Linked DNA regions of Homo sapiens: all the other regions are linked to region 1. Evidence: fine-mapped expression QTL. A gene starts in region 1. Each other region holds a variant in brackets. All regions are shown on one strand. Distances are from middle to middle. Region 1 holds the start of MBOAT2 (membrane bound glycerophospholipid O-acyltransferase 2). Region 2 has its middle 84 kb from the start of MBOAT2. Region 3 overlaps MBOAT2 (membrane bound glycerophospholipid O-acyltransferase 2). Region 4 has its middle 47 kb from the start of MBOAT2. Region 5 overlaps MBOAT2 (membrane bound glycerophospholipid O-acyltransferase 2).

What was found.
Region 2: its variant is fine-mapped to the expression of MBOAT2 in visceral fat (GTEx, PIP above 0.99).
Region 3: its variant is fine-mapped to the expression of MBOAT2 in whole blood (INTERVAL, PIP above 0.99).
Region 4: its variant is fine-mapped to the expression of MBOAT2 in T cells (TOPMed, PIP above 0.99).
Region 5: its variant is fine-mapped to the expression of MBOAT2 in whole blood (TOPMed, PIP 0.99).

What each region holds. Positions count from the first base shown.
Region 1 is chr2:9,001,240-9,007,722 of GRCh38, forward strand. It overlaps MBOAT2 (membrane bound glycerophospholipid O-acyltransferase 2), which reads right to left and starts at 2,445. Exons shown (of 13, transcript NM_138799.4): 1 at 2,301-2,445. The coding sequence starts at 2,375. LOC124907728 (a long non-coding RNA gene) reads left to right here and starts at 2,837. Exons shown (of 2, transcript XR_007086199.1): 1 at 2,837-2,889; 2 at 4,230-6,483. RefSeq lists an enhancer at 1,102-1,756 and silencers at 1,521-1,815, 2,359-2,818.
Region 2 is chr2:9,084,421-9,090,912 of GRCh38, forward strand. No RefSeq gene overlaps it. Among named protein-coding and RNA genes, the nearest start is that of MBOAT2, 84 kb to the left of the region's middle. The variant G/T (reference allele first, on the strand shown) is at 3,213.
Region 3 is chr2:8,881,771-8,886,770 of GRCh38, forward strand. It overlaps MBOAT2 (membrane bound glycerophospholipid O-acyltransferase 2), which reads right to left. Exons shown (of 13, transcript NM_138799.4): 6 at 741-795. Among named protein-coding and RNA genes, the nearest start is that of KIDINS220, 47 kb to the left of the region's middle. The variant T/TA (reference allele first, on the strand shown) is at 2,715.
Region 4 is chr2:9,047,738-9,054,229 of GRCh38, forward strand. No RefSeq gene overlaps it. Among named protein-coding and RNA genes, the nearest start is that of MBOAT2, 47 kb to the left of the region's middle. The variant A/G (reference allele first, on the strand shown) is at 2,832.
Region 5 is chr2:8,851,930-8,858,421 of GRCh38, forward strand. MBOAT2 (membrane bound glycerophospholipid O-acyltransferase 2) reads right to left here. Exons shown (of 13, transcript NM_138799.4): 13 at 761-6,492. Among named protein-coding and RNA genes, the nearest start is that of KIDINS220, 18 kb to the left of the region's middle. RefSeq lists an enhancer at 2,989-3,540 and a silencer at 3,130-3,424. The variant G/A (reference allele first, on the strand shown) is at 4,264.

The sequences.
Region 1 (6,483 bases):
AGTATAGTAAATACATAAACCAGTGATGCACTTAGGATTATCAAATATTACGTACTGTACCTAATTGTGTAGTATACACAATGTGCTAGACTTTTATAGGACTGGCAGCACAGTAGGTTTGGACTGGCAGCACATTAGGTTTGTTTACACTGGCATCACCACAAACACATGAGTAATGCGTGGTGCTACGACATGACAATGACTACAGCTTTACTAGGCAATAGGAATTGTTCAGCTCCATCATAATCTTACGAGACCACCAGCAGACATGTGGTCTGATGACCAAAATGTCACTATGCAGTGCACGACTGTGCTATACAAAGTCAGGGCTACACATGGCTGTACAAATTTAGAGTAGTCCCAAGGTACCAACTTAAGACCTTTAGCTAATAAAGAAGGATGTCAAAAATTTTAAGTCCTGTCACTTTCCCTTGATTCTCCTGCTTACTTCAGTACTGAAAAGAACTTTCTCTGGATGCTTAAATGCGTTCATTAATAGCAAATCACTTTAAAAAGTTATAAGCATTATATAAATGAATAGGTATTATTAGCATAGTCAAGAAAATATTTCAGCATAGCAGGGACGGGTAGGGCTATGGCAGACATGGAGCGGGAGGGAAAGAAAGATGGGGGAGAGAAAAAGGGAACGTGAACATGTGCCCATCTCTCTGAAAGAAATGTAAATATATAAACCTATCTCCCTTGCTCCTCATCAGCAAAGAACTTTTCAACAGACACCCACCCTGCATTTGCTGATATACTGGAAGTAGCCTATTTAAGGCAGGAGTGTGATATGCTAAAAGGTCATACACTGCACACCAGTGTGGAAATGTCAGCAAGAATCCTCCGCGGGGCCGGGAGGATGAAAAACCCTAAATTCTGGTCAATTTATTAATAAAGAGAGAAGAATATTTTCTTCGAATACACGATTAATTTCACTACCATACTTTATTAGCAAGACACCCATTAGAACTCTTGTTCAAGACAGGTGGGGGATAGGTACTTTACTATTAACCAGAAGTTATGACCGCGATGTGGAATTTCAACAGAAGCCACAATTGTTTAACACTCCTTCGACATACTTAAGGCGATTTTATTTAAAACAGTAAAGCACAAAGCAGCTAGTATCCTAATGTCAGGTTTCCAGCTTGCTGCTATGGAAAGCCGTCTGGACAAGAAGGAATCCCGTATTGAAGTGAAATCCCTGAAGACTAAATGACAGCAGCACCTTCAAGTTCAAGACAGTGAACCAGTATCCCGTGTGAAGTCCAAACACTTCCAGGTTAAGTACACTTGAAATAACTGTAAGCAAAATTTCCAAAGTTAACTACCTTTAGCCTGGGGCTAGAGCAATCACCTAACTATACACCCCCGCCCCCCAGCCCCCGCCTCATTAACAACTTCCCTAAATCTCACTGTCACAACAAAATACTTCCAAACTTTCTTTTCTCAGTAAAAATGGCGCTGCTTTTCCCATCACAATGCTGTTTATTTCTCAGTAATCGTTAGGCCCTTTAAACCATCAAACTCGATTGGCCTCATTTAAATACCACCCTTCCCTAGACACTGTCAAGAGCTTTTCTGAGGGCTGGGCAAGGAGGTAAAGTGGCTGCATCAATCTACAAGGTTGCCACTTTGTCAGCAAGAATCCTGGGATTAACTCCGACTTTTCTTCATAACCTGTCTGCCTTCCCACAAACTGTTGCCTCTGTCTCTCTTAAGCCACAATCCAACGCAAACTGTCCCCAAAGTGCAGTAGCGCTTAAGCCTCTCCGGGCCCCTAGCACCCATCGACGCCGTCTCTAAGGCACCCAGCACACCCAGACCCATGCATCAGCCTCTCCGGGGGTCGCTCAGAGGCGCGCGCGGGGCAGGCAGCACCACGCCAGGCTCCCCAAAGCGCAGCCTTCCGCACCCTTTCCACAACCCGGTCCATGCGCACCGGGGGCTGCTCCGGGACCCGACCACCGGATCCGAGCGCCGCTGCCGCGAAGGGCAGGGACCGCATGCACACCCGCACGCCCATACGACCACCCTCCCCGGGGGCTGTCGCCGGCAACAACGCCCGGCCCACCTCCCGCTCGGCCCGGGGATGGCGGGCTGGGGGCGCACCCAGGAGGGAGGGGGCTCTGGGACAATAACCGGCTTGTTGCCCCCTCCCTTCCAGGGAGCGGCGGGTAGGGGGGCACCGGGCGCCCGGCCCCAGCCCCCACCCTCCTCCCGGGCCCCCGGTCGGGTGGCACCGCGGCGGGGAGGGGCGGCGAGGGCGCGACGCCCGGCGCCAGGGCGCCTCGGGGTACCTGGTCGATGGGCAGCTGCACGGCGTTGCTGAGGGGCTGCAGCAGGGTGGAGCCCGTGGTGCTGGTGGTGGCCATGGCCGGGCCTCGGCGCTCCGGCCGCCCGCGCCGCTCGCCCGCTCGCGCTGTGCCGGGCGACGACGAGGATGGGGATGCAGCGGCGCGCCCGCCCCTGGGCCGCCCGCGGTCGGAGCTCTGCGCGGGGAAGGCCGGGGAGGGGCCGGGGGCGGTGCCCGGCTCGCACCTCCCCCTCCGCCGCCACCTCCTCCCGCGCCCGCCGCCCCCGACCGCCCTGCACAGGCGCGGCCCGTCCTGCCGTCGCCCCCGTCGTCCCCGCCCCGGCGCCCCAGCCGCATCCCCCGCCCCCGACTTCCAGCAGCTTCCAGCGGCCCCCTCCCCACCTCGCGCGCTCTCGCTCCAGACAGCTGCGCGACCCAATCGCGGCGCGACGCCCTGACGCCCGCAGCCAATCAGAGAGCGCCGGCCGCGCCACGCCCCTCCCCCGTGCCGAGGACCCGGGCGAGGGCGCCGAGGCGCGGCCCGGGCCGTCGCCGGAGAACGGCTGGCCAGCGTCGTGGGGCGCGCTCCTCGGGTGAGAGCATGGAAGAGCGTCTTTGCCCCTCACTCCTCGGTTTCTCCTCCCTGGAATGTCGCGGCCCCCCACCCCTCTCTGGGAGAGACGGCAGACAACAAAGGGGCCCGGGGTGGCGGCCGGAGGGACGATGTGAGGGACGCCGCCGAGCCAGCGCCAGGGGAAGTTGGGGACGAAGGTGGGGGCTGGGAGGACGACAAACCAAAACAGCGACCTGGCTGAGAAGCCCCTTTGTCTGGGAGAGTGCCGGGTGAAAGCCCAAAGCTGAGAGCAGCCCCGGGGTCTGACGCTTTCGTCACCCTGCAGCCGCACCCGGGCCTTTGGGTGGTGAGAGCTGGGCCTGGGTTCGACGCCCGCGGGCGCAGGGAGACCGGCTCCCCTTTGCTGTGTGAAAGTTTAGTTCTTTGTAGCCAGCCGCCCTCGTTGAAGGCCCCACCTTCTTCCTGAGAAAGTTTCTAAGCATCCCTTCACCCCTTGAGCGCAGGCACCCCCAGACTGTTGAAGTCCGCCAGGTTTACATACCCTGGCGGGTCACGTGTATATATAATCCCCCCAACTTCGTAAAAGTAAGCCATTTGAGTTCCTTTAAAATGCAAACGTCAACTTCTGTTCAGAAGACTTTAAAAGAGGAGAAATGCCACAGCAGTTATGAGGACAAATCAAGACTCAAGGATTTGGCAGTTTAACTTTGGTAGAAATAACTAATGTTTACTGAGAGTTTAACCACAGCTTTAATACTTTTGGTATTTAATCCTCACAATAACCGTGTGAAATAGACACTTTTACACACCCTCCTTCAAGGAAGTTGAGTCACAGAAGAGGTAACTTGCCCAGGGGCACACAGCTGGTAAGTAGATTGGAATCCAAGTAAATCTACATTTAGAGCCGACCTTATCACTAGGCCTTCATCTCTCTCACACTTAACACCCATTCCAGAAACTCCCGTCAGCTATCAGTTATACCATTGGGTTGATGACTAGCTTAGAGTCTTGAATAAGAAGGCAGCACAGATAAAAATACACCTGCCTTAGTAATCAGTCTGTGGGCTTACGTTTGTCTCTCTGAAAAGGAGGCAGTGGAACTCATCAGTGCAATCCCGTCTTGCCTAGAATCCTTTCACTGGTCGACTCAATCCTAGTTTGGTGGATTCTCAGCTGAAATGGAATAGAGGATAAAAGGAAGAGTAAAAAGAACAGGACCTTCATTCCCCCAGGGGAGTGTTCCAGTGGGATTTGTAATCAATTAGAGAGCTGCTTATTACAGTATATTAATCCAAAAACCCAGACCTATTAATATTATATTAGAAAGAAACCATTTTTTTTTCCTTTTCTTCACTTTAGAAAAGTAGAGGAAGCGCACAGGTGGCTGAGCATACAAACTGAAGAAAAAATTGAAATGCCATTTTAAAAACTTGAAAGGTGGGTGTTGGGAACATATTGCAACCTAAAGTAAGCAGCATGGAGATACAATCTCAGAGCTAGAACAAATAATGTCTGCAGAAAGGAGTTTCCTTAAGCTAAATTTTTATTTTAGTCAGACATGACAGAACATAATCTGTATTTGGGGTAACTACATGAAATTATTTAATATCTAGAATGGTTGAGCGCTGTGGCTCATGCCTGTAATCCCAGCAGTGAGCTGTGATCGCACCACTGCACCCCAGCCTGGATGACAGAGTGAGACCCTGTCTCAAAAAAATAAATAGGCCAGGCATGGTGGCTCACGCCTGTAATCCCAGCACTTCTGGGAGGCCAAGTTTGGTGGATCATTTGAGATCAGGAGTTCCAGACCAGCCAACATGGTGAAACCCCGTCTCTACTAAAAATACAAAAAAAATTAGCCGGGCATGGTGGCAGGCACCTGTAGTCCCAGCTACTCAGGAGGCTGAGGCTGGAGAATTGCTTGAACCCAGAAGGAGGAGGTTGCAGTGAGCCGTGATCACACCACTGCACTCCAGCCTGGGTGACAGAGTGAGACTTTGTCTCAAAAAATATAAAGAAATAAATTATATATATATATAGAGAGAGAGAGAGAGAGAGAGAGAATAGGGAAGATTTTAGCCATCTGGGAAAATTTTGCTGTGTCAGAGTTACAAAACTATAGGTAAAATATAGTATAGTAGTAATAATAGCTTAGATTTTGGAATCAAACACACCTAGTCTCTTCCATTTATTAGCAGCAAGATATTGGGCAAGTTATTTAACCTTTCTAAGTCTCCATTTCCTCATGTAAAAATGAGCGTAATAATGGCACCAACTCCATAGTTTATGAGGTTATAAAGGTGTACTTATATGAAGAGCTCAGAACAGTGCTTGGTGCATGATAAAACTTAAGAAAGATTATATTAGAGTTCTCCAGAGAAACACAACCAATAGGAGATAGATATGGTTTTGCTTCTCTGGAGAACTCTAGATAGAATAGATAGATAGATAGATAGATAGATAGATAGATAGATAGATAATAAATAGATATGGAAATAGATAGACAGAAGTTTATTATGAGAGATTGGGTTGAGATTATGAAGGCTGAGAAGTCCCACGATCATCTGCCATCTGTAAGCTAAAGGCCGAGGAAAGCCAGTAGTGTAGGTCCAGTCCAAGCCCAAAGGCCTGAGAAACACAGGAGCCAACAGTGTAGTTCAGTTTATGTCCAAAAGCCTGAGAACCAGGAGCAATGATATCCGAGGGCAGGAGATGATGGATGTCCCTGTTCAGAGTGAATTCACCCTTCCTCCACCTTTTTGTTCTATTTGGGCCCTCAGCAGATGTGATGACGCCGGGGTACGTGGGTGAGAAAATCTTTACTCAATGTACCAATTCGAATGCTGATCTCTGCAGGAAACATGCTCAAATACACATTGAGAAATAATGTTTCAATAGCTCTATCTGGGCACCTTTTAGCCCAGTCAAGCTGACACATAATATTAATCCAAGAAATTTAGTATAATTCTGAAAATGGAAACCATTTGTTTCGTATTAAATATACTACCTCTTCATGTTTTTAATGAAGAATTGAAGCTGGCATTTTAAGCTGATAACTCATTGATGGTAGCATAAACTGTGTGCAGGCCATACAATTAGCCTGACCAGTATCTGCTAATTATACCAGAAGCTCTTCAGTGGAGACAAAAGAGAAAAGAATTAAACTAATTGTATATAATGCCTCACTGCCCTACCTTGGGTAACATCCATCCTATAAAGAGCAATTCTTGTGTTAAAACATTTATTGACCACTTACTATGTTCAAGGAGCTATGTGGGGTGACGTAAAGGATAAATGATGCCTGTAATCAAAAGAAGAAAACAGTCGTATTCACAAATTCACATGTTACAAGAAAAGTATCAAGGAAGTTTCTTTTTTTAATGTTAAAATCAAAGGAATATGTCTGTAAGAAAGAAGCTTAGCTTGAAGTTAAAAGACCTGAATTTTAACCCTAACTTTTCCACCAGATAGCTATGAACTTTAGAAATTGGCTTAGCTTCTCTGTGCCTTAAGTTTCCCATTGTTAAATATGAATAATGGTAACTGTTCATCCTACCTCATAGGAGTGTTGTGACTATGAGCATGAACTTAATCATAGACTCAATTATTTTTA
Region 2 (6,492 bases), 83 kb after region 1:
AGTGTGCCTGATGAGGAATGGACCTTCTCTGGGTGAATAGGATCACTCTTTGCCCCTCGCCTAGCCTCCCCACTAGTGATGGTTTGTGAAAGGAAACGGTGAGGTCAGCACTGAAAGAGACCATATTCTAGGAATGCGGTAATCATGGCATAAGGTAATCAAGAGAAGACATGGCTGCAAAACCTTAGACAGTAAGTTTAAGATGACCAGAAAACATTTTCCCGCACACTCTGGGCGAGACTTGCATTTGTGGTCATCATAAACGAATTATGGTGACAGCCTTTAGGGAGACATTGGAAGCCAATATTCACCAGGGCCATGATGGAGGATGCGGTGTCCTAGTAATGATGCACCTAGCGTGAAACAAATGACATCAGGGAACTCCAGAGGCAAGTTGATCTATAGTTTCAATATTAACAGGTCCCAAAAAGCCACAGCATTGAGAGCAATAACAGCGTTGCTACTTTTTCCTCATAATGAGAAATGTGAAACTACCCAGCCAAGGCACATCTGACAATAAAGAACTTGACACGATGGCTCCTGGACCTGAGCAGGAAGAGATGGTGGCCAGACATTACGAAGACTCCTCACGTGCCCTAACTGCAGGATTCACAAAGACAAGCCTCTCTTTTCTACCAATGATTCTAAATCTTTGTTGATAAATCATTAAAAGTTATATGGCCCATGAAACTTGTAATACATCTTTAATCAAGTTGTTTATAAACAGGGCCATGCAAAAATATGTTTGAGATCTAGATGGGTCCAGTTCAGATGAATGGAATCTTTTTTTTTTTTTTTTTTTTTGAGACAGGCTCTCGCTCTGTTGCCCAGGCTGGAGGGCAGTGGCACGATCGTGACTCACTGCAGCCTCTACCTCCCAGGCCCAAGCAATCCACCCACCTCAACCTCCCAAGTATCTGGGACTACAAGCCTGAGCTACTGCACCAGGACAGCTTTTTTAAATTTGCTTTTTTGTAGAGATGGGGTTTCACTATGTTGCCCAGGCTGGTCTCAAACTCCTGGGCTCAAGCAATCCAACAGTGGCCGAGACAAAATACACAGAAGTTTACTGACCATGGCTGTGACTATATTCTGTTCCTCCTCATGACCAACAAGAGATTTCAGGCTAAGTGGATGTCAGCAATGAAATGCTAGGCATTGCATTATGCAATTTAGCTCCCTGGGATTTGTTAGCCAGCTAAGGGAATGAATGAACTTCTAATATGTAAGAGCTACCCACAGTGACATGGCATCTATATCTCATTAAATATGTTGAGTAAAAACTCAGAACGAACTCAAACTAGGATATGAGAGAAAAACAAAAGTAATCTCAGTATTTTGTTAGAAACTACCCAGGAGTTCAAATGTTTTGTCCCTTATGATGTCAGGTGCAATTAGAAAGCTCCTTCCTCTGGATAACGATGCTTTTGGAAGGAGACCTATGCCTTTCCACCCCCTCTTTTTCTTCTTAACTGTTAAGTTCTGTACAAGGGAATCTAGTTTTAGTTCTATTTCTGGCCATGCTACAGTATATCCATGTTTAAAAGCCTTACTTATTTTAGGTAAAAATAACAATTCCACATTAAATAAAGTAGACTTTACAACTGTAGATATACTTAAATTCGGGCACACATGGTTACTGCTAATACCTAAAGAATTAACTATCCATATTAGAAAATTCTGCAGTCTTTATATCCTCTTACAATGGAGGTGGAGTAGAAATTAATATAAATAAAACTGTGAATAATTTATCCAGAAGATTCACTTTTCAATTCACTGACCTTAGATTTTAACTACAATGTCTGCATAGATGTTAGCTGTGTTATCTAATCAACAAATCATGCTGGAGGAAGTGCTTTTTCAGTGACTTTTACTATCAGTATGGGACAGTAAGATGTACATCAAAGACGAACAAGAAACCAGGGCCCCTCTAAAGATTGTTTTATTTTAAAAAGTAAAACAAAACACACAATAACATTTGGCCAAGCACTGTGGTTCATGCCTGTAATCCCAGAACTTTAGGAGGCCAAGGGGGCACAGATCACTTGAGCCCAGGAGTTTGACACCAGCCTGGGCAACATGGTGAAACACTGTTCCTACAGAAATACAAAAATTAGCCGGGCATGGTAGCATGTGCCTGTGGTCCCAGATACTTGGGAGGCTGAGGTCGGGGAATCACTTGAGCCCAGGAGGCAGAGGTTCCAGTGAGCCGAGATTGCGCCACTGCATTCCAGCCTGGGTGACAGAGAGAGATCCTGTCTCAAGAAAATAAGTAAATAAATACAGACAACACAATAGCATTAAAGTAAAATTTTAGTCAGCAGTCCTAACCTCACTATCCTAATACCATAACGATTTTCCCCACTGTATATGTCTTCCATTCTTTGCCGTGTATAAACACTTCCACGTTGGTGCCATCATATGGTACTTAGATGTTTGCAGTCTGCCTTCAAAATTTTATATCACAAAATACTTAACTCACACTCTTAAAAATGATAAAGTGATAAACTATCCTTTTTTTTAAGACATTCTCTTTTGGCTGGATATTTTAATTACACATAAGCTCAGGAACCAGCTGTGATTAACTCTTGCCGACTGGTTTCATTAAGATTCAAGAACTGCTGATTCACATCCAAAAGTGCATTCACTGTGATCAAATCCACGGGACAGAAGTCTGTTGATGTGCTAATTAATAAGACACACAGTTCTTTTTTCAGCTGCTTCATCTTCGAGTACTTTTCCAAACATTCCTTTTGGAAACTAATGTGTCCTTTAACTTTTTTTTTCTCTGTGCCGCTTAATGAGGTCTTGGTTACAATCTGATTCAAGGGAGCCACGCTCTACAATGCTCTTCTATAAACACAGTCATTTGAAAGGTGATTAGTGGCTGGGCAACCCTGGCCACAGCCCCCAGGTCAGCCGGATGTTCTTCTCCCTCTTGGGGCCCTGATGGAGCCAACAATTCTAAACAGTTTTCTAACATGGTGATTGGACTATTTAGAATGTACTTTCATCTTTAGTGGGAAGAGATACGCTAAAATACTTGAGATTCCAAAGTATACTCATAGGAATTGAGAAGAGGGAGGAATTAATACACTTGACATTTTGCAAAATATAAAATTGAGAATGAAGACGATTTATGATAACTCATAGCAAATGCTATTTAAATCCAGCATTCCATTCAAGCCCAGCTAATAAGCAGCCCTGTGCCA[G/T]AGGATATGTGATAGAAAACATATTTGTCTGGATTAATTTTAATCCCAGTTCCACCACTATCTAAATGACCTTAGCAGCTAATAACATGGAACATTTATCAAGCCTCCAGTATGGGCCAGTCACTGAACAAAGTGCTTATTTATGAAACATATTTATTCTCACAACCTACAAAGTGGAGATTATTATAATCCCCATTCTACAAAAAAATAAAAAATAAAAAGGAGGCCTAGGAAAATTATATAACTTCTCCACCATTATGAAGCTGTAAGTGGCAAGGTCAAAAAATTTTAACTTTAAATTAAAATATAACATGTATAGAGAAAAATGTGCATACTTTCAATGTACAGTTTGGTGAGTTGTCACAAAGTGAATACACTCGTGTAACCACTCATGTAACCCCAGAAGCTGTGCTCACGGCCCTTTCCACAACTACCCATCACTCCTTCCCAAAGGTAACCATTATCCTGGCTTCTAACACCACATCTTGGTTTCGCCAATTTTTAAGCTTTCATGCAAATGAGAATCATACAAAATGTGGCCTTTTGTGTCTGGCTTCTTCTACTTATGGAATGGATTCTTATGTGTGGTGTAAGGTAGTGACCAGGTTTCATTGTATTTTACCCATCACCGTTTGTTGAAAAGCCATCCTGTCTCCCGCTGCTCTGCTGTGGTGCTTTTGACACCAATCAAGTGTTCCTGTATGTGTGGGTCTTGTGGACTTTCTGTTTTGTTCTGATCATCTATTTGCCTCTCCTGTGTCAATACCACCTTGAAGTCTTTCCGAAGGCTTGGCATCCAGTTGAGAAATCCTTTCAATTTTGTTCTTTTTCAAAAATTGCTTGGTTATTTGAGACCTTTTGCATTATCATATAACTTTTAGAATCAACTTTGCATTTTTGCAAAATACCTACTGGATTTTTATTGAGATTGCATTGCATTGGAATAGATCAATTTGAGAACTGACATCTTGAGATAATTGAACTTTTAGTCCACAAACATCTCTCCATTTATTTAGGTCTTCTTTTATATTTTTATTATTTATTTACTTAGAGACAGAGTCTTACTCTGTTGCCCAGGCTGGAGTGCAGTGGCAATATCTCAGTTCACTGCAACCTCTACCTCTTGGGTTCAAGAGATTCTCGTGCCTCAGCCTCCTGAGTAGCTAGGATTACAGGGGTTCACCACCACGCCCAGCTAATTTTTGTATTTTCAGTAGAGAGAGGGTTTCCCCATGTTGGCCAGTCTGGTCTCGAATTCCCGACCTCAGGTGATCTGCCCGCTTTGGCCTCCCAAAGTGCTGGGATTACAGGCGTGAGCCACCCTGCAGGCTTTCTTTTATATTTTTAATAATGTTTTGTCGTTTTCAGCATAGAATTCTTGAAGATGTTTGTTAGATTTATTTCTAACAAAATTATTTGTTAGGTAAGATGTTTAAGTTTTATCTTTTAAAATGTAATTCATAATTGTAGTTTTATACAACTGATTTTTGTTAATTGGCTGTTTCCAACAACTTTGCTAAATTCACTTTTTTTTTTTTTAGATGGAGTCTCGCTCTGTCACCCAGGCTGGAGTGCAGTGGCGCAATCTCGGCTCACTGCAACCTCTGCCTCCTGGGTTCAAGCAATTCTCATGTCTCAGCCTCCTGAGTAGCTGGGATTACAGATGCCCACCACCAAATCTGGCTTATTTTTGTATTTTTAGTACAGATGGGGTTTCACCATGTTGCCCAGGCTGGTCTCAAACTCCTGACCTCAGGTGATCCACCCGCTTTGGCCTCCCGAAGTGCTGGGATTACAGGTGTGAGCCACTGCTCCCAGCCTAAATTCACTTATTAAATCTAATAGTTTATCTGTCTCTGTCTTATTCTGTTCTTAGAAGAAACATTTACAAAAATTCACCTTTATACACGTGCTGTGGATTTTAAAAATAAATACATTTTTATTGGATTAAGGAAGTTCCCTTCTATTACCAGTGCTAAGAATTGTTTTATTAATGCATGTTGCATTTTATCACATGCTGTTCCCACATTTATTGAGAAAACTGTGTTTTTCTTCTTTATTCCATTAATGTGGTAAAGAATTATTCAATGATGCTGGGCGCTGTGACTCCCACCTGTAATCCCGGCACTTTGAGAGGCCAAGGCAGGTGGATCACGTGGTCTGAAGTTCAAGACCAGCCTGGCCAAGATGGTGAAACCCTGTCTCTACTCAAAACACAAAAATTAGCCGGGCGGGGTGGCAGGCGCCTGTAATCCCAGCTACTTGAGAGGCTGAGGCAGGAGAATTGCTTAAACCCGGGCGACAGAGGTTGCAGTGAGCCAAGGCCTCACCACTGCACTGCAGCCTAGGCAACAGAGTGAGACTCTGCCTCAAAAAACAAAAGAAAAAGAAAATAGAACTATTCAATGATGAATCAACTTTGCTTTCCTGGAATAAATCCAATTTGGTTGTGATGTATTCTGTTTTTTACATAATACTTTATTTTGGTTTGCTAATATTTTACTTAGGATCTTTGCATTTATCTCTTTGAATTAAATGGGTCTCTAATTTTCCTTTCTTGTAATGTTTTTATCAAATTTGGGAATCAGGTTCTTCTGGTGTCATAGAAATCTTGAGGAATCTTTTCTCTGTTTTCTAAGAGTTATGTAAAATTGATGATATTTCTTTCATAAATGTTTAGTAGCATTCACTTAAGAAGCCATCTGGATCTGGATTATTCTTTATGGGAAGGTTTTTATTTTTTTATTTTATTTTATTTTTTTGAGATGGAGTCTCGCTCTGTCACCCAGGCTGGAGTGCAGTGGCACGATCTTGGCTCACTGCAACCTTTGCCTCCTGGGTTCAAGTGATTCTTCTGCCTCAGCCTCCTGAGTAGCTGGGACTACAGGTGCGCACCACCACACCGAGCTAATTTTTGTATTTTTAGTTGAGATGGGGCTTCTCCACATTGGCCAGGCTGGTTTCGAACTCCTGACCTCGTGATCCACCTGCCTCAGCCTCCCAAAGTGCTGGGATTATAGGCGTGAGCCACTGCGCCTGGCCATGGGAAGGTTTTTAAATGCTGTATTTAATTATTAAGATTTTCTATTTATTCTTGTGTCCATTCTGGTAACTTTTACTTTTCTAGGAATTTATACATTTCATCAAAACTTCCAAATTTACTGGCATAAAGTTGCTAATAATGTCCTCTTATTTTTTTTAATTTTAATTTTTTTTCTTTTTTTGAGATGGAGTCTTGCTCTGTCGCCCAGGCTGGAATGCAGTGGCATGATCTCGGCTC
Region 3 (5,000 bases), 120 kb before region 1:
AGACATGCTACTTGGGATGAAAGATGAATACTTAGTGTAGTTCTAAATAATATCACAAACAATCTCATTCTTCTAGCAGCTATGCACTTATTCATTCTAGATTTGGAAACAACGTAATCTGTGGGAAATTTTTCTTTAAGTATAATGAGTATTCCATCTCAAATTATATTAGTTGAGATAGACACTGTGAAATTAAGCCATTCCTTAGATTAGTCATCAGAGTGCCTTTAATAAATGAAGTAGAAGCTTATCCCAGAATGAATTCCTCAAATAATAATGAGAATTATCTGACTGGTTCTTTATTATTTCAAAATATGGCATCGATGTGCTATATTAATGTATTATATCTTAGCCCAGTACCTGCCATCAAGTTATTGGCCTGTAAATGGTAGCTGCTATTATTACCAGTAATTACTACATGGCAGACATGAAGACAATACTATCCTCCTGTCTTCAAGGAACTCAGAGTCTCATAGGGATGAAAACTTTAGCAGCTAACCTCGTGGCCCATAGGAGGCGCAAATGTACAATCGCAGAGGCAGGGTGCTACAGGAGCCCTAGAAGGGATGCCCAGGCCTGCCCAGCAGGCTTTGGCAGGAGGGAAGTGCATGGAGAGAGTGAGGCTTGATTTTCAGAAGTAAGTACCTCTAGAAGGACTAGTCAGCCTCAGCCACAGAAGGAACGTGGGTCCTAGGCAGGGGCGCAGGAAGCATGGCAGAATAGGATGCAAAGGCACGTACCTTACAGCTAAATCCCTCTGTGAGGAAGTCAGTTCTTCATCCTTCCGAAACATCCCTGAGAAACAAAAATAGGTACTCATCAATTAAGATTTCTCCCCAAAATGGCATTTTTGCCCATGCACACTTTCATTACTTTCCTCATTTGAAATTCATGCTATTATATTCCTAATTTTGATATAATGACTGTTCCTTTCCTTCTCATGGCAACACAGCCTCGATCATGTGAAAAGTCTCTATAAAATAACACATGGTTGGGTATCTGACTCCACTCTAAGGGGAGTTATAATTAAAGAATTCCCAAATGCTGGCACTTTAAAAATTATAATGTTATTATCCTTAATCGTAAATGCTATGACTTTTCGAAAAGGGGCATTACAATTTTTCTATTATGGGATGACTTAAATGACTACACATGAGTACTATAAACTAGAAGATCAACCTAAAGCAAAGAGCAATTTCCTTACTCCTCCATGACTCCAATGCATGAAAACCAAACTCAAATACATCATCTTCATCCATCTATTTACGTTTCTCTTCAAAGAGGAGGATATATTATTTAAGATTACACATCAATTTACTAGATCCATATGCTTTAAAAATATATACCTCAAATCCAATTTAAAGACCAAAGGGGAATGAAATTAAAAAGCAAATAGCAACATTAATATTAATAAATTAATAAACTAATATTAGTAAAGTAGTAATATTCCCCCAAAGAACCAAAGCTAAAGCAATTAAAAAACAGTGAAATAAATAGACAAAACTAAAAACATGAAAAGACAAATCGTAGAATACATGTAGCCAACTAACGTGAAATGTTAATTTCACGATTAATAATGTTTTCATTATAAATCATTACATGTACATTAAAAGAGCAAGATGCCATTTTCACCTATTACAAGTATGCAGAAATTTTAAAGGGCTCTTACTCATATAATACAATCTAAATTATGTAAAACACACATTTTATGTATTTTATATGTATATAAAACAAAGATGAGAAGAAAATAATTACTGTCTTAAAATGCCTCAGGAACTATTCTATGCACTGAGGAAAGAGCAGACGAAAAACAAACTCCCTGCTTTTATAGCACTTATATTCTAGTAGGGAGACAGAAGATAAACAAATAAATGAGGTACCAAGAGGAACTCACATCATCTTGCTGTAAACCAGTATAGCAAACACTTTAGAAATCTTTCTACCTTCTATTCCTACAACTCTAGCCCTAAGGAAATAACTGAAGGTGTGATTCAAGATTTATGACAAGGATCATCACAACTTTATACGTAATAGCAGAAAAAAAGTAACAACCTATATATGCAACAATTGGGGAATGGGAATATATTACACATTCCACTTTTGACAATTATGTAAAAAGAAAACCATGCCTCATAAGATGATAAAGGAAATATTAATAAAAAAGAAGGGGCCAGGTGCAGAGTGGCTCACGCTTGTAATCCCAGTACTTTGGGAGGCCAAGGCGGGTGGATCACCTGAGGCCAGGAGTTTGAGACCAGCCTGGCCAACATGGTGAAACCTTGTCTTTACTAAAAAAAAAAAAAAAGAAAAAAAAAATTAGTTGGGTGTGGCGGCGGGCGCCTATAATCCCAACTACTCAGGAGGCTGAGGCAGGAGAATCACTTGAATCTGGGAAGTGGAGGTTTCAGTGAGCCAAGACTCAGCCAAAAAAAAAAAAAAAAAAAAAAAAAGTCTGGCTCTGAGAAATGTTGGGGGAGGGACATGGAAGATTATTTTTTCTTCGTATTTCCAATTTGTATTTTTCAAATTTTCCTCAATGATCACATACCTACTTTTTATAATCAGGAGGAAAAAAACACTTAAAAAAAAAGATGATCGAAGATTAGAGAACGGTAAAACATTATCAGGATTTAAACCCCAAAAAAGGGTAATTCCTACTTGTGACAATTCTACTTTCTTCCCCCATATCAGATATATGTTGTCCACCTTTTCCT[T/TA]AAAAAAAAAAAAAAAGAGCCATCTTTAGAAATGAGGATAAGTATTCAATTTTTAAAAACTCCTTATCCTTTTTTCCCTCATGCTTTTACCAGGCAAGTGACATGTTAATAGCCTTCTTTGTGATTTCAAGCTTTGCCATACATAAACTATGTCATTATATTTAGTCAGCATTTCCAAGTGTTTGGCATAGGGTGGGCCTCTACACCAGTTCAGTCTGCCATGTTGCTCAGAGAAGCGATTACTGCTTTCGAAGTGTAAACTAACCAAGAAAAGTAGACACAGAGCTTAAAGGATAGAGTTGCATAGAACAAACTTGTGTCAAAAGTCTACACGCACAACAAACCCAGCCTTCCTTCTCAGTTCAAAACTTGGGAACTGGCCAAAAGAATCAACAAAAACCAATTAAAGACAAGATATCATTTTTTAAAGCTAGAAGTCTAACCAAGTCCAAGTGAGGCAGTGCAGCAAACAATGGGGTATGACAAGACTTCTGAGCCCTGGCATGACACCACATTGCAGGTGGAGACTGAAAGCCTGCCACTGCTGCTGTGTCTAACAGCTGATACGGGTAGTCCAGTGATTCTACTCTGCTGCTTAGTTACCCTGAACATACCATTTTTTCACTGAATTAATGGAATGGCGTATCTTCCACTGTTTAGTACTTATGTATGAATAGGTAAAAGAAAATGATTGCTTATCATTTTCATGTAAATTCGGAGTCAGGAATCATGGCGATGCCAAACAACCACTGATTATCTCCATGGGTGGCTGCGATAGTGGCACCTTTGGTTTCTGATGGTTCAATGTACACACATTTTGTTTTATGCACAAAATTATTAAAAATAATGTATAAATTACCTTCAGTCTATGTGTATAAGGTATATATAAAACAAATTAATTCTGTGTTTAGACTTGGGTCCCAAGATATCTCATTACATGTATGCAAATATTCCAAAACCCGAATAAATCCAAAATCGGAAACACTTTTCTCAAGTATTTCATATACGAGATATTCAACCTGTACAAACATTCTGTTAGGTTCAAGTATTCCTATTGTGAGGTGACATCAATGAAGCTGCCAGCAAGACAACCAGCTACACTATCCCTAAAGGCCACAGTACAAGCCAGACTTCATGAGCAAACATGCCAGCAGGTTATTTTAGTCATTCATCCTAAGCCCTCAGCAATCTCATATACATGATTCAAAGCCAGAAAGGCAAGCAGGCTCTATTATATGAGGGTGATGAAATGTCTTAAAAACCATGCCTAGAAATACCCAAAGATAAAATAACACCTGCTTCCTGAAGATGCAAATATGAATGATGCCACTGGATTGATAGTTGAAAAACAGACACAGCTGTAGGTAATTTATTTGGTTTCATCTAGGGGTGGTCCTGAACCAGGCTGTGCAGAAACAAGTTAACATAGTTCTGAGAATGCTATCCTTAGAAAGGCCTGCTTATGAGGTGTGCCCACGGCTGGTGTATGAGAACTTGGCTGGTCCACAGTCCCCTACACCGATAGGAAATGTCCCCTATGTCTAGCCTATTTGTGCCAACAATGTGGTTTATTCTGAACACCTGCTTTCCTTCTGGGAGCCTGGAATTTTGGTGTGCGCTAGGCAGCGGGGGCCTATGTGACCAGCCCCCAGTAAAAACTTTGGGTGCTGAGCGTCTAAAGAGCTTCCCTGATGGACACTTCACAGGTGTTGTCACAATCTGTTGCTGGGGGAAATAAGTCCGTTCTCTGTGACTCCCCTGGGAGAGGACTTCTGGAAACTTGTGCCTGGTTTCTTCCAGACTTCATTACAGGCACCTTTGTACTTTATTGACTTTGCTTGGAATCTTTTCACTGTAATAAATGTTAGCCTTGAATTCAACTACATGCTCAGTCCTGTGAATCACCAAACTGGGAGTGGTCTTGGGGTCCCCCAATACACAGATAATAAGGCCCTTCTCTGAAAGATTAGCTGAGAAAATATGGCTTAGACAGGGTTCAATCTATCCCTTGGGAATAAAGGGGTAGGTGGTATGGGATGTGGCAGGCCTGCAGCAAACTGTCTCAGAGGATGTACTGAAGCAAACTGGAAGAGGAACCTAGTTTGAAAAGTTAAAGTGTATGAACTCCTCAAATGCTGCCAAGACTAATCACAATCTAAACTGTTCTAAAGAGATAATTACCATTAAATCCATTTAAAAGAACAGGTTACAAAATGGGGTTTGTTGTTCTTCTGAGTTGAATATATATATTGTCATCAGATACTTCTAGATCTATGGACAAAATTA
Region 4 (6,492 bases), 47 kb after region 1:
CAGACTAGCCCACAAACACTGAATTACCTTAAGGTGTAGACTGGGGTCCCCAACCCCCAACCCCCAAGCCACGGACGGATACTGATCCGTGGGCTGTTAGGAACCAGGCCACACAGCAAGAGGCCACACAGCGCGGGCCAGCGAGCATTACTGCCTGAGCTCCGTCTCCTGTCAGATCAGTGGCAGCCTTAGAGTCTCATAAGAGCACATACCCTACTGTGAACTGTGCATGTGAGGGACCTGGGTTGCGCGTTCCTTATAAGAATCTAACTAATGCCCCGATATGAGGCAGAACAGTTTCATCCCGCAACCATCCCGCAGCCCCTGGAAAAATTATCTTCCATGAAATCGGTCCCTGGTGCCAAAACGGTTGGGGACCACTGCCATAGAGGGATGAGAGATCTCGAGACTAACAGCACAGCAGTCAGAGGAGGGCTGGCCTCAAACTCAAGACTGAGTCTCAGCTCCCACCCTGTCAGTACTCATCAGTTACCTCTCTGAATCTATTTTCTCAACTATGAAATGGGGATAATAACATACATTCTCCCTCACAGGGCATTGCAAAGATAAAGTGAGATGTGAAAATCCATTAAAACTCTGTATGGTATATCCACACAATGGAGCACTATGCAGCTATAAAAAATAAGGAATATATCTGAACTGATATGGAATCATTTCTACGGCATGTTGTTAAGCAAAATAATAATAATAATAAAAGAACAAAGGAGTACATATATTGGTATCTTTTGTGTATGAAAGACATACAGATATAGATGTTAGACATATATATATATATATATATATATATATATATATATATATTAGCTTATTTTTGTGAAAAGAATATCTCTTTGTATAGTATGGACTTCCAGAACCACATTAATGTTTACATACACCAAAATTAAATAAAATTAAATTAAACTATGTCAATAAGATGGAGGAGGGGAAGTCCTAAGATGTAACACAAACAGAAACAAATGAACTCAATGGTATTTAAAATAGAGAGCGTGACTACAGTAAAAGGGAGGGGAACTAACACAAATAACTTTGTTTTTAAAAAATAAACTCACCCTGAGGAACTTTTTAACACAGTATTTCGACTACAAGGAAAAAGCCTATTGCAAGCAAATCTTGAACTGTATTTAAGTAGGGCTTATTTTAGCAGTGTTGTGGGCTAGCAATTCTAAACAACTTGCTATGTATGTAGGAGTGAACAAATGAGTACACGTATTGATGACGTTGAGAAGGAAAATATTAATACATAATGGTAAAAGGCTAAGAAGAGCCTTGCGGTGTTGAATTGGAATTCATGGTTTCTAAATACTGTATAGATATAATTACATTTGTGAATATTTGTGTGTATTCTCTAGTTTTTTCTGCTGAAACGGCCTAGAAACAATGATACCCAAAAGCAATAAACATGCCTAGCACCCAGATGTCAGATTCTATATACTGTTTCCCAGTAAAAAGAAGCAGCACTTCTCCAAAAAAAAAAAAAAAAAAAAGCCAATTATAAGAGTGGGGCAGGGAAAATGTACTATGAGCCTGGAATGCTTTGTTATGCCATAACAAATAAAAAAGTACTCAAAAAAAAAAGGATACATTCAAAGGACATGGGGAACAGCTTGCAGAAGCTCTCACTGATCAAAGTCTGGGGAAACGTGAGCGTCAAGATCAATAATAATAATAATGGATTATAACCCGTTGGGTAAAATAAGAATCCGTTAATCCACACTGATTAAACAAAAATAAGTACACAAGAGAATGGAAGAATGGAAAGATCTTCTAGTATAATTAATAAGTTTAGAGAGAATGCTGAACTTGGTTGCCATTTTGCAACTATCATACCAATAATTGATTTAGGCAAGAATCATCAGTGAGTGCTCAAACTAGTTGTGGGTGTCTCACCACACACCACCACCTTTGAGAAAACACGTACGAGGAGCTACACAATCTAGGGTTCATCGCCTCAACTTGGTAAGGTGGCTACAATTGCGGTTATCCCCATTTTACAGTTTAGGACACTGAAATGTAGAGATGAAGCAACGAAGGCCACATGTTCTGGAGACAGGATTCAAATCGAGTTGACCACAGCCAGAGTTGTCTCTCTTCCCGCGTAGACTAGGGATCCTAGTGACTCCAGCTGCCAGGCAGCCTGGCTCTCTGGTGTCCCAAACTCTAGGGGGAAGAGATGTGTGGGTGAGAGTCCAACCTGTGGGATGGGGACACAGTGTGGCTTTGGGGGCCTGCATCACAAAAGCAGCTAGGCAGAGGCATGAGGTGTGATATGGTTGGGGCCACAGCTGTTCATGTAGGCCGGTGCACAGTTGTCTTATTCTACATCCATCTCTCCTCATTCCAGCTCAAGCCTCTCGCTTTTTCTTTAAAAGTAATGTTCGGGGAGGAGGATGTTACCTGAATTAGCCAGATATTCATCTCATCTCTTCGTTTCTTTTGGCCCACGTAAACACAGACCCAAAGTACTCCAGTCAGCGGAAATCTTGTAGATCTTGCTTGCAAAAGTGGCCGCTAAGACCAGGGCTGAGCCCTTGCATTATCTGTGCATATCAGGGCCTATTTACAAAGGGCCTCCGAGTCAGCTGTTGGATGTTATCTCTGACTAGGTTATATAAATAGCTACGAGATGCACTGACAGGATTAAAAGAAGTTTTCCATCACGCCACTTCTGTTGTTAAGTGCAAACATTTAAAGTCTACTACCATTTTTATAATCATGTTTCCCAACTATAACTATTTAATTAATTTATTTATTTGTGGTACATCAGGAACCTCAAAAAATGGATGTGATTCAGGGACTCTGTCTCTCTCTGG[A/G]AAGTCCCTATTTGTATGTGTGTTTCCTGCTTTTGAGTGTGATTCCTTTGAGGTTACATGAGGTCACATGACGGTCAATAGATCTTGTTGAATAAAATAAAGATGCTGTTAATTTCTCAATCAACAGAGCACCAGTTTTATTTTATTTTATTAACTTTTACTTTAGATTCAGGGAGTAAACATGCAGGTTTGTTACATGGGTATGTTGTGTGATGCTGAGGTTTGGACCACGATTGAACTTGTCACCCAGGTAGTGAATATAGTACCCAACCAGTAGTTTTGAAGCCCCTGCCTCCTCTCCCACCCCTCTTACATTCCCCAGTGTCCATGGATCCCATCTTTATGTCCATGTGCACCCAAGGTTTAGCTCCCACTTCTAAGTGAGAACATGTGGTATTTGGTTTTCTGTTTCTGCATTAGTTTGCTTAGGATAATCGCCTCCAGCTTGCATCCATGGTGCTGCAAAGGACGTGATTTTGATCTTTTTTATGACTGCGTAGTATTTCATGGTGTATATGTACCACACTTTATTTATTCAGTCCATCACTGATGGCCACGTGGGTTGATTCCATGTCTTTGCTATTGCAAATCACCAATTTTCTTTTTTCCTGGTTTCGAAATTATCTTATTGCTTTACGTGCTACCTTATTTACCTGAATTTAAACCGGTAGTTTTATTCAGAGACTGCTTATTTAAATGGTATTATAAGTATCGAGTTAAATATCAAAAGCAATTATTAAATATTCTGTTAACAGAATGCTCCTTGTTCCTACTGAGTAGTTTTATGTTTTTCTGTTGGAAAAAAAATTAAAGGAATGTCATCTCAGAGAGTGAAACAATCCATCACAGTAATTAACACAGGAGGGTAGGCACACATGGAATAATCATACCCTGGAGTTCAATGTAGGAGAAGGACAGTGTGGCATTCCAGGTGATGATTGCACACCATAAGGACTACCCATCCCTCTGATGCCACATTAAGTCAACACGTCTGAAATTTCTAAAATATTCAGTATTACAGGATGAAATTTGGACAAATCCATAAGATCTGTGCACTTCTGTATTTATTTATTTATTTATTTATTTATTTATTTATTTATTTTTTGTGATGGAGTCTCACTCTGCCGCCTAGGCTGAAGTGCAGTGGCGCAATCTCAGCTCACTGCAACTTCTGCCTCCCGGGTTCAAGCAATTCTCTGCCTCAGCCTCCCGAGTAGCTGGGATTACAGGTGCCCACCACCATGCCTGGCTAATTCTTGTATTTTTAGTAGAGATGGGGTTTCACCATCTTGGCCAGGCTGGTCTTGAACTCCTGACCTCATGATCCACCCACCTCAGCCTCCCAAAGTGCTGGGATTACAGGGAGCCACGGCGCCCAGCCGCACTTCTATAATTTTAAATGTATTTGCTATCAACTGTCCGCATCCCAGCAACTCCCAAATACTTACATTTTATCGGGTGCTGAGGAGAAATTAAACCAAATTAGATGTGTTTTCACTCTTTCCCCTAAGCTTGAATATATAGACATAGTATCAACAATGTCCCCTTTGTAGCAAATTATTGCTTTTATCTTTTTATTACTAGGCAACAAATTATTTACTTAATTAGGAGGTAAGTTAGAAACCCAAAAAGCATCCTTTTTTTGAGACAGGATCTTGCTCTGTGTCACCATTACGGCTCACTGGAGCTTCGACTGCCCAGGCTCAGGCGATCCTCCCGCCTCAGCCTCCCAAGTACCTGGGACCACAGGCGTGCACCACCACACTCAGCTAATTTCTGTGTTTTTTGTAGAGACGGGGTTTCACCTGGTTACCCAGGCTGGTCTCAAACTCCCCGACTCAAGCAATCCACCCGTCTCAGCCTCCCAAAATGCTGGGATTACAGACGTAAGCCACTGCACCTGGCCCCAAAAGTCACCTTTAAAATAAAAATTTTAGAAGCACTTTTTGAGATCTGTAATATACCAGGTACATTTTTAATGAAAACCTTATGAAGTAAAATTCCCATTTTACAGAAGAGGAAAATGACATTCAGTGAAATTATTTACAGAGTTTTATAGTGAATAAATGACAGAAGTGGCATTTAAACCCAAGTCATTTTGCATTTCCTATGACATTGCCCTTCAGAGCTTTCTCTCACTCCCCACCCCTCCAGATGCCTTCCCAGATGGCAGCATGTTGACAGACATTGCTTCTGTGACTCCCCAGAGTCCCAGAGAGAAAGATGGAGATGACATTATGCATCGGGGGTTCCAGAAGCAGAGTGTGGGAACTATGAAGTATCTTCTCTGTTTCTCTGAAAGTTCTCACCTGGGTTAGAAGCTGATTTTCCTTAGAGCCCGGTTTGCTTCCTGGTATGCAGTGAGCTTAGTTGGGCTGATGTTGTCTGTAGGTGAGGCCTCCCACTGGTGGGGTAAGTTTATTTCAGAGGAATGATAGCATTTCCTCTTGCCACAAACCTAGGTCACACCCTCATTCTGGTTTTTTGCAGCATTCAAGTTGTTATCTCCATCAGGCTGGGTTCTGTGTCTGTATCTCAGCTGAACTCAAATTCTAGAAGAAAGCATATTCTGGAGCAAGCTGTGTATCTATCCCCTCTAAAGTATCAACAGGTGTGGGGCTTTGCTGGTTTCACAGAACACGTGCAACTGAAGACTGGACTCTTGAATGCTCTCCCTCTCTGTCAGCTCAGTACTTTCTCACCATCGGTCACCTGAAGACCAAGTTCCAAACACTCTGGGCTCTGCACAAGGCTCCATGTGACCTGTTTGTGCCGCAGTCAGCTATGAGGCCTGCAAGGGCGGATCCCTTTGTGTATCCGTGTTGCCAGTACCTGGCACTTGCAATGTGCTCAATAAACATGGATTTAGTGAATGAGTGTAAGGGTTAGCTTCACTTCTCAGAGCAAAAGGGGAATCTCCTATTTGGGTGTAATTTTTGCAAGTGACCTGGCAGCAGTAGTGAATGAGAAAGTGTTTCTGCTTCTCCTTTAGAACACAAGCAAAACATGTGGTTTCTGAGCCCATGGATCTTATAATTTTATTCATACACAGAAAAAAAGCAATAATGATTCATGAATGTGTAGGACAAATGCCAAATAAATTGGACAAACAGGAAAGGCCACAGATAATCCAAAGAAGAGTAATCACTGTGAAGGAGAGTTTTGAAATAAGTGGGTTTTGAAAGACAGCTGGGGTTTAAAAAGGGAACAAACAGTGAAGGTAAGACTGAAATGCGCAAAGCTGTGGTTGGTAGGGGAATGAGCCGGGTGGGTTTACAAATACAGAGGCCAGCAGGCTGGTCAGAGAAAGGTTTTAATTAAGAAGCAATAAGGAATAAGGTTCAGAAAGTGAATAAAGGCTGGGTTAGATAGAGCTCTGAACAGTTCTTAGGAGTCTAAACTTGGTTTTACAAGAAATGAGCATGCATGTTAGGATTATTTGGCTACATATAATAAACTCAAGCTAGCTTAAAAGGGAAAAGAAATTTTTTTAGAGAACTTGGAATATCTTTCACATAATAATTCCCTTATAAATAGTTGTTATATTGAATTAAACTCTTAGAATAACCCTCCTTTAAAATGTATGGAAAAATAAAGAGAAGAACAAAAGAAATGATGCAGAAAAAGAGGTTGGTTGCAACAATATTTATTAAACAGCCTT
Region 5 (6,492 bases), 150 kb before region 1:
AATGCCTCCAATAAAGCACTAATGGTGTCACATGGTCACTATTCACCAACACCTTGAGGACAAGGGTAATGACTTATTCTTCTTACCCAGCACGTGGGTAGGAGGGATTCTGAGTCTGTACTGCTTTTGGTCATGGCCCAGTTTCAACATGGTCTTGAACCTCAAAATGGGGTAACTTAAATCTGGCATGAAATTCTAAGGTCTTCCAGAGAGAAAGCACTAGGAATGGACCTGTGAGTTTGCTCAGCCTAGCATCTCTATACAAGCGTAAAACAGAAGACGTTTCCCTACAATTGTTCACAACGGCATAAAGGAAGAGCCCCCAGGCACGCTCTGAAGTTCTTCTAGGTCTGTGATGACACAGAAATCTAGCAGAGTCCCAGCGCTCTGCTTCCCAGTAGCCACACCCGTCCTCCCACAGGAGTGCTGCGAACCAGCTAACTGCAGGGCCTGGGAGGTGGGCGTTCCCTTTCAGCTGAGCAAAGTCAGTATCTTCTTCACTTGACAAGTCTGTTGTAGGAGAGAATACAGATACTATACACTAAGTTAAGGTTGTTTTAATTACCTTCCAAAGTGCTTATGACAATAGTTTCTTTTAAATAATCTTTAAGCAGTTAAAGAGTCAATGACTCTTCAGAATATTATCACCATATTACTAAAGAATCCTTCAATAAAAATGACCATTAACTCTCGTAACAGGGCCAGTATTGTTCTATAAGTGGAATTAAAAGCCTAAGATATTAGCAAACACACACACGCATATTTTTAAACTACTGTTTAATCAGTTGTAAAGACACACAAATTAGAAAAAAAAAACATGTCCTAAACATGTTACATGTAAGTTAAAAACACCTTTAAAAACCAGCAATAAGCCACCAGTGCAGCTCTGACAGACTAGAAATGAGTGGTTATGAAATGAGCACATCTCAGTTTGACTGACACAGTGGGAGTTTTAATTTACCGTACATCAGGAACTAATTTATGAATCTGTTGAAAAATAACACTTCTTTAAAAAAATATTTTGGAATAATAAAAACAGAAAGCACAGAACACCACATTCTATTCTCAACTTGGGAAGGCAAATGTAAATACTAAATTCTGGCTGCTGGAGTTGGGTCTCTCCTCATGTTTGGGCGACTGAGGGCTCAACTACTACTAGGCAGAGATCAAGACAACGTTTAAAGGAAGGCAGGAATGAAATCACACATTTTCACTCTGTATATGGAAGAATTTCTCACTTCACCTGAATGATTTACTTTCATTCCTATGGCCTTCTATCGTGCCCCTTCTGGTTCAGAGGAGCAGTCACATAAAAGTGACAAGATGGACAAGACTGGTTTGGAACACATTTGTGTTCAATGTTTGATTCCTTTTTCCTTGTGATAAAGCCAGAGGCAAATGTACTTCATTGATAAATCTGTGTGCGCAGAACCAAAAATACATAAAATTGGGAAAGAGGCATATTTAAAAAGTCTGTCAAACTCTCAACATATATTTTCGTCCTTTAATGCAAAAGGACAGGGGGGAATATTCAAATTGATTTCCCAAGAAAATTAACCTAAAATAGTGAACGTGAAACAGCTAAGACTCTGGTGAAAGGCAGTCAGTCACCTTTCCCATTTCAAACATGTTACTAAGAAACTGCCTAGTCATTTTACTTATGTTGCTCTGTAACTTTTGGTTTTTCACTGTAGCATTTCCATTTATTTTTAGTGTGTGATTTGATAAAACATGGCTGGAGATGGCTATGAATCGCTGAGTAAGCTTCAGACAGCGGTTCTGCATGGGTCATCACACTATAATTTACAGAACATACAGTCTTAGTGTTGTATTTTTTCTTTATAAAAGTTGTACTTAAAGAAGAGTTATAATCAGTTTTAAAGGCAAGACAAATTAGTTGGTGTAAAAACTGTGTATTTAGGCTGTGTTTCACAAAATTTCCCAGTCAATGGCCTATGGAACGTGTCAGTTCTTTATTGGGATTTGCATAATGTTAAAAAACCTATTAAAATAAATATTATTTTAAAACATACAAAAACATTATTCAGCAGCCTACCAATTAAAATGTAATTGGCTGCAACCTCTGTACAAGAAAAGCCTCAAAAAGCAGCTTAAGCATTGATTATAAGAGCTTTCCTACAAAATACCGATGTGGAAAATTTCATTTTAAAATTTCTGTTGTAATCAGAGTTTCTATAAATAGATTTGACTACTTGGTGTTGCAGAAAAACACTGTAGAGACCCTCTATGTTCTAATCTTTCAAACTCAAATTTCAGGGTGTATTTCTCTCCTTAAATGCAAATCTTTTGCTTCAGCATTGGGAGCACGCGTTCATCAAGAAACCCACTTTTACAAGGGCTGGAGAAAACAGAAATTTCAGCATCTAAGATGAGTGTATCAACGACCAGCCACTCATTAAATGCACACTGGGTTAAATGCAGCAGTTTTATAAGGTATTGAGGGCAGTTAAGATTACATCTCACAGTGTTATTTAGGATTCTGCACCTATATTAAATTTCAGCCAGGAAGAACTATTAACGCCTGGATAAAACTCCACAAAATACTAGCTTATATCTAAAACTCTGGACAAATTTTTAGCTGACACAGATATAGTAGGCACTATTCTGAAACAATTATTTTCTCAAGTAATTTTTCTTTCAATTATAATGTAGAACTGTTAAGACCAATTAACTAATAATTGTGAACAGTTGATAAGGAAACAAAAAAAGTATAAATGTCCAGATTTGTTCATGAATATACAAACTAAATACTTACAAGGTATGAACTTTAAATAGGAGAGATTTTTGTCCTAAAACTGTGATCTAGTCCTTGAGTAAAAGTATAAATTTATAATTATTTTAATGGCAAAAATTTTAAAGCTATTGTTTTCTGCGGTTTAAAATAAGGTGTAACTAAACTAAATATGCTTTAAATATCCTTGAATAACTTTGAGATGTTATATAGTGGTAAACCCTGTCCAGTAGTCAGTAATCTGTATAAAATATTTCAGAGCATATATCTTCTCCAATTCCACACAGCACAGAAACCAACAAAGCAGAGAGAGCAAAAGGAAAACATGTTTTCTTCAGCAGAGACTATTTCATTATGAAACACTCATTGTAAGAGCTATTGCCAGTAGAAAAAGTATGTTGCCATGCCTTCTGATTTAAGGGATTCAGAGGTTTCACTGTTATCATGACAACCTTTTGAAATGTCAGGGCTTTGAGCTCAAGTAGTAAGTCAATGACCATGACAATAGTGTGGACTGTGAATGTGCCCAAGTCCTTGAATCCTACAGACCTTGCTAATGGCTCCGTTCACGACACCCAACTGGTCCTGAACTCTTAGGATTAACCCGTTTGCTTATGGCTGAGGAACTTGGGGTCTACAGGACAGGTGGCTCCTCCAAGTCTTAAGTCTCATGAAAGGCAGAACCAGAATGAAGATCCAGGTCTCCTCCTAGGTCAGCTAGTGCTTAAATGTGAGTTACTGTCACTTTCTAGAAACCTCCTTTTTACTGCACATTTTTCTCAAAAGTGGTATGTTTGGAAATCCTGTGTGTGTCACACATGGTGGAGACCAATAAATATATTTTTGAAGCAAATGGGCAGTAGTGGCTAATAAGAGAAGTGGTCACCAGACATTTTTGAAGCCAAATAAATCTTCTCTATCCTGCCGGATATTTTAGAAGCTAAATAAATTCCCCCAATTACCCTGAGTTCCAATAAAAATACTTACTTTAAGAACAGAATGAGCCACTTATAAAATGGTGACAGCTGAGGCATACCAAATTATACTCTTACTGTTTCAAGAAAATGAAATTGAAGGATGAGTAGTTATTTTTGTTCATTTTTTCCCTGAGTAGTATATAATTAACCAAAAGTATAAATATGATGTTGATTGATCATCTCTAGAGTGATTTCATGATACCTGAATAGTGGAAAATATAAAACATAAATATGCATTGAATCTTATTCTATTGATTAAAAAAAAGCAAGCACATAATACAACGAATCCCCTTTCTATTTAACAGGAGTAGACGTACCAGTTTAAAATTCTTCTACTGTAAGTACTAGAAGCAAAATATTAATCTTTGTGATTATTACTTCTCCAAACTAGAGGAGAGATATCCAAAAACCATTTCATGAAAATAACTAGTTGATTCAGGGGTATGAAAATCAGTCAAACTGGATATGGAATTATTATCTTCGAAGGAACCAGAAAACCAATCAAATATCTTGCTTTCTAGATGACAGTGCCAA[G/A]ATCATATTCACTGAGCAAGAAACAGGTAACAGTGACTAAGGTTTACAGGCTGAGAAATAAATTCAGGTAACAGAAATGTGATTATTTGTAGGTGGCTAGATAGGCTGAACCAAAAAAAAACACACACACACACACACACACACACACGAACAAAACCCAACAAGTTTGTATTAAGCCTTCTTGTTTTCACTTATGACATGCCTGAACCTGTCTTTTAAATTCTTAATTTGTTCACTTTCTCTTAATAGCAGTCGGATTCTCTGCAACATTAATGAAAATGATCAAACATTTTACAGGGCAGGTACATTCCATGAACATTCTTTCTATTCTCTCACATTAAACAGCTGGCATAATTTCTTTTTTCTTTTTTTTTTTTTGTGAGACGGAGTCTTCCTCTGTCACCCAGGCTGGAGTGCAGTGGCACAATTTTAGCTCACTGCAACCTCCACCTCCCAGGTTCAAGCAATTCTCCTGCCTCAGCCTCCCAAGTAGCTGGGATTACAGGTGTGCGCCACCATGCCCGTCTAATTTTTGTGTTTTCAGTAGAGACGGGGATTCACCACGTTGGCCAGGCTGGTCTCCAACTCCTGACCTCAAGTGATCCGCCCACCTCGGCCTCCCAAAGTGCTAGGATTACAGGTGTGAGCCACCATGCTCAGCCAACATAATTTCAATGCATGGGAAAACAGAGGAAATTTATTTAGTTATCAATCCTTTCCTGGGTAGGGTTAGCCTTATCAGCCGGAAAACACTTACTTTTAGATAAATAAAAATAGATTAGGATATTTCTAAACTTCAAAAAAGACACATGCCCATTTTTGCTGAGACCTCAAAAGCTGCAAGTGCATTTGCTTTTCCTTTCTTCTTTAAATGAAGTATTATATAGCATAAGCCAGATGGTTGCCTTGTCTTTAACTTCATTTGCAAATTTATTAGTGACTCCACCCCCCGAAAAAAAGAGAGAGAGAACCCCATCACAGAAAATTTGCATTTCATTAAAAATTTAAGGCAAAAAGTAAAAGTAAGTTCCATACATAGGTCAAACAAAGGTGAAGTCAGAAGGCTTTGCCCCCTCCCCTCCTACAGGGCAGGAGGTACAATCTGGGGCTGAGGCCACTCCACTGCCTGGCATCAAATCCCACTCTTCTGCTTTCAGCTCCTGTGGCCACCACAGTCCTCTGTGGGATCGCAGGAGATGCTTAGTAATCCAAGGCAAGATTAGTTGTGGTAAAAATGGCCCATAAAATAAAAGCACATTTTTCCACTTACAGAACCTAAAACTCATTTTAGTAAGAGTTCACAGCAAAATTTTAATGTGAGAAGAGTTTGAAACTGAATTTATATTATTCTTAAAAAATGTCACCCAGACTCAGTGACTTTTATTTTTCATTTCCCTAAAAGTTTCCCAAATATGAATTAAATTGTCAAGGATAAGAAATGGATTAGCCAGATAGTAACCTACCTAGCGATTTCTCTTTCAAAACCTTTGAGCAACCTACCAGTATTATTTTCAAAGCCTCTAATTCTACATAATTTATGCCTGATAAATTTAATTTAGAAGTCCAAAGTATCACGAAGTCATTCAACTTTTTTTTTAAGTCTCACATGACGGCGCAGAGCCCTGGCATGGGGGGGAAGCTGCCTGCAGAGTCGCGGCTGTGCCCCGTGCATTCCACCGGAGGCCACGCAGTGCTTCTTCATTCCTGCCTTCCTTCGTCACCTCTCTCTTTTAAGAAAAAGAATAAGCTTAAAATATCACATTACCAAACCTCTCATTATGTTTTAAGAGATTCCTTCTGGAAGCGCTCTTTGACTGCACAAGGTAATTAAACTCTCCAGCAAAATCAGCTACCTATAATTTGGCGTCCATTACTGTTTACAGTTTCACTATGGATTGTAGTCATTTGACATACTTTAAGAAAACCCTTCAAATACTGAGATGTTTATTGCATTTTAAAAATATCCACACTCTTAAATATCCTGTTTCAAATTCCTCCTAAAATCCTTTACAGCACACAACATCAACTACTGCAGTAGCGTTCTCACAATATTACACTTGAAAATACCATTTAGGAACAATATTTTAGGAAATAGAGGGTTTAAGGCAAGACATTCATTTGGAAAAGTTAATTTCTCTCTATCATCCAGATTGACACGATTATTTTTCCACCTCTTCAGTGCCTTGGGATACGCAACATACATTCAGCAACAGGGCACGCGTGTGACCC